Homo sapiens: one gene and its partner. The protein of the gene in region 1 purifies or fractionates together with the protein of each later gene. This does not show direct contact. Each region holds a gene or a part of one and is shown on either strand. Other genes may lie near its edges.

What was found. Proteins that work in one complex are often made in the same cells at the same time.
Region 2: the proteins of ANTXR2 (region 1) and DPYSL5 purify together in Homo sapiens (affinity purification with mass spectrometry; one large-scale study listed by BioGRID and IntAct). This does not show direct contact.

The regions. Positions count from the first base shown.
Region 1 is NC_000004.12:79,902,216-79,905,737, reverse strand, and holds part of ANTXR2 (anthrax toxin receptor 2 isoform 1 precursor), read left to right. Parts: 3' UTR 1-3,522.
Region 2 is NC_000002.12:26,924,616-26,928,137, forward strand, and holds part of DPYSL5 (dihydropyrimidinase-related protein 5), read left to right. Parts: intron 1-271; coding exon 272-430; intron 431-2,637; coding exon 2,638-2,817; intron 2,818-3,522. UniProt on the Homo sapiens protein: Involved in the negative regulation of dendrite outgrowth.

The DNA of each region.
Region 1 (3,522 bases):
GGTTTGTGGCACTGTTCCAAGAGGCCTTACACACACACACAAATATATAATTTTCTATACATATATATCCTCTAGCTTGAAACTTTTGCTCAAGTTTATTTATGTCACTGGCTGGCTGGATCCAAAGTCATGTGTCCACACATTCATAAATAAAAATTTTACCTATGCCTGTGCTACCATTTCTTTAAGCCCACATAAAGCTAATGCCTTCTTGGGTTGAATATGCAGTTGTTATGCTTAGTTTCAGGGATGGAATTCTATTCAGTTCCAAAATGTCCCTCATGTTCACAGATGATACTATTGGCAGTAGCTGCATATGCAAGTGTAACTTGGAAGCCTGATATAGTATACCCAACCCTTTCTGCAATGAGTTATTGTATCCCTTTGTTCTGCATTTGCATCTGGAACAAGACCTAATGTGGCTTCCTTAAATGGGCACTTCATTTCTGATGAGTGCACACCAATTATTGCTATTTTAATATCATTGAGAATACTACAGAAGCTAAGGCTATGTTTCTTTGGTAACTACTTCAAATTTCTCTAGAATTATGTAGCATACTTACATTTTGCTGCATGAACAATGAAAATTAACCTCTGCCTTTAAATGGAAAAATAACTTTCTGTAGATTGTTATACAGCTACTATGAAGAGCTCTTAATGAAGAGGAAGTGGCAGTGGTCTATATGTAGACTGAAAAAATATCATTAATAAAGTTCAAAGACTGATGGAATTTCATTGCCCTTAAAGATATGAACCAGATCTGTTTTATGCTTTTCTCCAATTATACTAACTAGCAGTTGAAAAGAATTTGTTTTGAAGAGTGTTATTTTCTTACCAAAAGACCAGATCAAAAATCCCTATACTTTTCCACCAAAAAAAGATTAAAATGAAGCCATTTCTATAAATTTAATGGCACTTTATATTTTATATAGAGAAATAGCTTCTGTTTGATTTTCTGGACACCATGTCAGTCAAGATCTACTTTCTGTGTAAAAATGAATAAGTCTTGCACATAATCCATTCGTGTTGCATAAGGTTGCAAAAACAATTAAGTGGGAAATGACTCCTAACTTATGTGTCTACTCTGCCTAGAAAGAAAGTTTTGAAGGCATCTATATATATTTCATAACAATGTCTGTTCTTTATGGATTTGATCCATAAATATTTATCTATCTGAAAACTTTGATACTTGGAATGTTTTCCTTAGAGCATTTGGTGCTCCAAGAAAAAACATTTGGTGCTAAGAGTTGCAGCACTGATGCCTTTCCCTAAGTTAATTCTATTTTAAAAATTTATATTTCCTTCCCAATGAGATGCAGAGTAAAATTTGAGACCCTCCATTGACTAGGGAGCAGCATCTGTCATCTATGGTTAATTACTATTTTGACAAAAATATAGAAGGTTTAAACCCCCATGTATTTCAGATTGTTAGAGAAAGAAGTAGTTTGCTTATATTTCCCTTGAACTTTATTCTAACCATTTAAATAATAAATTATTCAATATTTGTTATAATAAATCCTTACTAGATACAAGATTTGGGTGTTTCTGTGAAGTTAACTTTATTATCTAAATATCACTAACCATTGTTTACTGCTCAGAGGCAGATACATTTGTTTAGTTTAAAGTTGAAACAAATTCTATATTGTGGATAATTAGGTGTTTAAAACATTTTGATAGACCAGCTTATATATGTTATTTTTGAAATTTAAGAAGGCAGAATGTAATTAGGTCACATTTACAAGTAGAAGGAATTATAACTTCCTACTCCATGCATATATTGTATATTGGTTAGCTTTTACTAGCATTTTCTAGCATCACATTACTTTAGAAAGTTTTTGAGAGTTTCATTACTACTGGAAAAGTTTGGTGGGTATATGTACACAGGAAAGAAATATATGCATCATTTCAATATGAAAGGAAATACATAATCTAGAAACATAGAATAACTCTTGGTACATCTGTTACATAGTTAAGGAAAGAAACAGGCAGGTGAGGCTGGAGAATGTTGTCTATTTGTAGGAAATAAAGTCAGTGCAGACGCATATTCTAGTTTAGAGTTAGATTAATATTGTGCTTAGTGAATTTCTATGACATATTTCTGAGAACACTTTAATATATTTCCACACCTACTGGAATCTAATTCAGTCGATCGGATAAAAGAAAGACTTTTTTGTTGTTGTTTTTGAAAATCCATAATGTAGCAGGTTCTGCGCTGGTTTTTTAATGTATTTTATTTTTGTGCTCTCCTGCCAAAAGAAAAGGCTGATAAGTAAGTACACAGTACAACATGTAAATTTGTATAAAAATATGCTTGTTTAGATTGCTCTACAATAACTATATTAAGGTAAATTGTGTGTGTGTGTGTGAGAGAGAGAGAGAGAGAGAGAAACAGAGGGAGAATTGACTCAATGTGTTTTCTATGAAGAGTCTTAGCTTAGGAATCAGGTAACAGAGAGGTCCTAGACCATAGACCCAGCCATCAACTAGCTTGCTGATGTTGAACAGATCAACTCTCAACCATAGACTGAAGATGGAATGAAGATATCAAAAGTTCCTTTTAGCACTGACTAGATTTTTTTTCTTTTTTTTGAAACAGAGTCTCACTCTGTCACCCAGGCTGGAGTTCAATGGCATGGTCTGGGCTGACTGTAACCTCCTCTTCCTGGGTTCAAGTGATTCTCATCCCTCAGCCTCCTGAGTAGCTGGGATTACAGGCACATAACACCACACCCAGCTAACTCTTGTATTTTTGTAGAAATGGGGTTTCGCTATGTTGCTCAGACTGGTCTCAAACACCTGGCCTCAAGTGATCCTCCTGCCTCAGTCTCCCAAATGCTGTGATTACAGGCACAAGCTACTGCACCAGGCCTCTGACTACATTTCTATTAATATGGTTAGGTTGGAGGTTTTAGTATTTTTGTATCTCATATTTGTATCAATATGACTGGCTTCTTTGTCTGTAGTGTGTGGTAATATTAGTTCTGTAAACTGTCAGTTGCAAAAAAAAAAAATACCTTGAACTATAGTATATGTTGATAATTAGCCATAATAATTTCTTAGTTAATTTCTTATAATTAAATTTGTCAAAGAGGAAACTTACAGTTTATATCTGATGAAATCTCTAAAAAGATGGGTAAAACATTGGGAAATGTATGCATGTACTTCACTCTGGTTTCATAGGGTTAGCAAGTGTCTTAAAAACATATATAAAGAAGCACAGAGATTGTTAGGAGATATTTATGCTCCCAGTTTTAATAATTGGGATACTTTGTATACCACAGAAAGAAAAATTACTAAACTCCTCTTTTTTTAGTCAAAATTGGAAAAAAAGTCTTAATTGACAGTTACTATGCCTGTGCTACCCATAGCAAGTATTCAGTGGAAAATACTTTACTAAGTAAGTAATTTGAACACAGCTTAAAATCCATAGTATGTTACAATTGCTAGCCTTTCACAAAGTTTGCATTGTCTTAATGTAGAAGGATACTGTGATCTAAGAATTCACAATTTTAAAAAGTGGAA
Region 2 (3,522 bases), on another chromosome or scaffold:
ACCCACGATGTGGTTTTTCCAGCGCGCCAAGCTGAAACCCTGGCGGAGGAAGAAGCAGGTTTGGGGACCCGTGGTCATGATGAAGGTCGCGCTGGCTCTCGCACCTCCACATGGCTCTTTACAGTTTCCCAAACCTCGCTGCCCTTGGTCCTCACAGCCTCTTGTGAGGCAGGGCCTGTCTTTGAATGGACCATGAGGACCATGTCTCACCACATCATTGACTCGGGGGCAGGCAGGGCTGTGACGAGACTGCCTTTTCCCGTCTTCCCAGGCAGCACTCGTCGGAGGCACCACCATGATCATCGGCCACGTCCTGCCCGACAAGGAGACCTCCCTTGTGGACGCTTATGAGAAGTGCCGAGGTCTGGCCGACCCCAAGGTCTGCTGTGATTACGCCCTCCACGTGGGGATCACCTGGTGGGCACCCAAGGTAACAGTGCTGGTGGGATCCCAGAAGAAGGCACAAGTGGTCTTGTAGGCAGAGGGGCTGGTTGGGGTGCAGTGCCTCCTGCTTGTGTGGGGCACCCCTCCCACTACCATCCTAGCTCCCCACAATGCCAAAAGAAAACACACTTGGGATTCCATAAGGGGAGCGGATGGGCTTGTGCTGCTTAACTTAATGAGCCATTTTCCGGCAGGCACAGAGAGGCCAAGGCCAGAGCCCAGGCCTTGGGGATGCAGTTTCATTGCTCTGACCATGAGGCTCTTACCGTCTCGTGTGAATGTAGGGCACCACTGACAGGTCATGGGCAGTGCTGCTGAGAAGAGGCCTGAGCAGGGCTCAGGTGCAGAGGGTCATATCCCATATCCTATGTGTACTGAGAGTCCACCACACTGCGCTGAGGTCTCCGAACTGAGGCTCCCATCCTGCCTCAGTACTGTCTGGAATGAAAGGAATGTGGTATGCTTTTTTCCTACTGGGGGCCCAGCTTCTGCTCTGAGAAGCATCGAGGCTGTCCTGGTCTGTGACTGAGGCTGGCACCCCCTGAGCCTTTCTCAGTTCAGCCTCTGTGCCTCCTTTGTGTCTGTGCCCCTGGCCTCTGGCTTTCCTGTCCTCCCCCTGCCCAGGCCCCAGGGTCAGAGTCCAGACTCCTCTCCCCGGATTCCCACTTCCTTGCTCTTCCTAATCTACAGGCATTTCGATTTGGCTTTGTTTCTGGGGTTTTTCTGCTTTTTTGCCCAGGGTAGCAGTCTGGATATTCATTCTTTCATCAATTATTTATTAAGCCCCATGTACCAGTACTTTGGTGGGTGCCCCAGAATCATAAAAATAATAAGCATTATTAGTTTTACCAACTCAGGAACTGCCTCTTCATTTTCCGTCAAAAACCCACTTGTAACTGCTGCTAATCAGAGTGTATATTCAGGGCAGCTTGAATCTGTGCTCCCAGGTGGACATCCTCAAGCTTTGAGCTCGAATAAACTCTGTTCTTAATCATAAAAAGAAAAAAGAAGTTTTATGAAGTTCTTCAGTTGCAGGCCCTGGTATAAAGGGCCTAACACCCTTCTCAGATGATAACCTAAAGCCTCACTATATTTCTGCCCTCGGGTCTTAGCCTTGAGCTGGGGGCTCACCCGGTTTCTTCATTATTTCTGACCTGGCACTTATAGAAGACCTCCTCCCGGTTCTGGGCCAGAGGTGCAGATCACGCTGAATGTCAGCCATTCCTTATCTCAAATGGGGGTCTCCTTTTTGGACACTCTCCTGGGTGAGAGGCCTCTACCTCTGAGCCACTCTCTACTTCCCCTGGAGCTGGCCTAGAATAGAGGGTCTTCTCAGGTTCCCAGCAGCACAGAAGCCAGGCCAACCCTCCCTAATTTCCTGGAGCTTATGGTGACTTTCATGCATCAGGAATTTAAAATTCTGTTTTATAATAATCAAATAAATGTTTCTAATTATAGATGTGAAAAATAGAAAAGAAAGGAAGTACATAATCCAGTAACCCCCAGCACCATCCCTGCTGTTAAACTTCTTTCTTTCCCATCTTTTTTCATCCATGCTTTCACAGAGTAGCTATTTTGCATAGGTGTGAGCATTTTCTATTTTGCCATGAAGTTCATGAACCAGCAATATAATGGCCACTTAATATTCTACCAAGTGGATGAACCTGAACTTATTTTCCTGTTATCAGGCCAATGTTGCTTCCATGTTTTTCCTAGTACAAATAATGTTAGGAATATCCTAACTCTCATAACTTTGTTCATGTTTAGCTTTGTTCCTAAATTTGGTTTTCCCAGGACCTCTGGATTTTTAGCATTAGTATGCCTTCTTTGTAATGCCAGGCAACAGCCCACAGAAATTAAAATCATTATTCCTATGTTTACCATTAAGGCTGGTTTGGAGACAGACATAGGGGACAGGCCTAAGTGATAGGAGAAACGTGCCTATAAGGTAACAATGTGGCTCCTAAACTGTGTCGTGTTGACAATTTTCACAGTACTTCCGCATCCATCTACTCAGGTGGCCTCACAGCAGCCTGTGGGGTGGGAGGAAAGTGAGATAGAGAGGTGTGGGGGGTCAACCGACAGACTGAGCTGGGGCAGGCCCCACATCTCCCCCATGCTGGGCCGGTGCCTGCCAGTCGGCCTCTTGGGTGTCTGCCCTCACGCAGCATTGCCCTTCTACTTGTTCTCCAGGTGAAAGCAGAAATGGAGACACTGGTGAGGGAGAAGGGTGTCAACTCGTTCCAGATGTTCATGACCTACAAGGACCTGTACATGCTTCGAGACAGTGAGCTGTACCAAGTGTTGCACGCTTGCAAGGACATTGGGGCAATCGCCCGCGTCCATGCTGAAAATGGGGAGCTTGTGGCCGAGGCAAGTCTGCAGCCAAGAATATTGGATGGAGGGACACCAGTGGAGACAGTTAGTTCTCAGGGGATTCCTGACCACCCGTCACTGATCCCACAGGATTCAGACAAAATCAGTTGTTAAAGTGTGAGGTGTGGACACCCCAGCTGTCAGATCTTGGTCAGAAAATCCAAACTTTACTACTGTCTGTAAAAAACAAATCTCTTTTTATGGTTCAAAAAGGCTTCTAAGTCGTAGGTGATGATGTCTTAATTCTAATGATATGAGATTTAAATTCCATTATAGCAGAGAATTTGGAGCACCTCTCAGACATATTTTTAATGAGATTTGATATACAGAATAAATAAGAATCCGCTTCCCATTTGGCCTCTTCAGAGGATCTGAGACATTAAAGAGATCTATTCATGGCACCAGGAAGGATAAGCCTCTGGTGCATTCTCCTAGGTCTTGGGGTAAGGGCTAGCCTAGCAGTTGCTGGAAGCTAGAGCTTAGTCTCGATTTCCAGAGAGGGAATTCTGAGTTTGAAATCAGTAAAGAGTGCTTGTCTTTGGTGTCCCAGGCCTGTTGCTAGTTATAATACTTAACTGTATTTTTAAGAGAACAAGATATGTTCAGTCATTATGAAGTGAGAATCAGGAGAGCCCCACTGCATGGGCGGCCTGTGCATGCTCTGCCTTCTTTAGAAGACGAACACTGCAGAAGTGAGAAAAG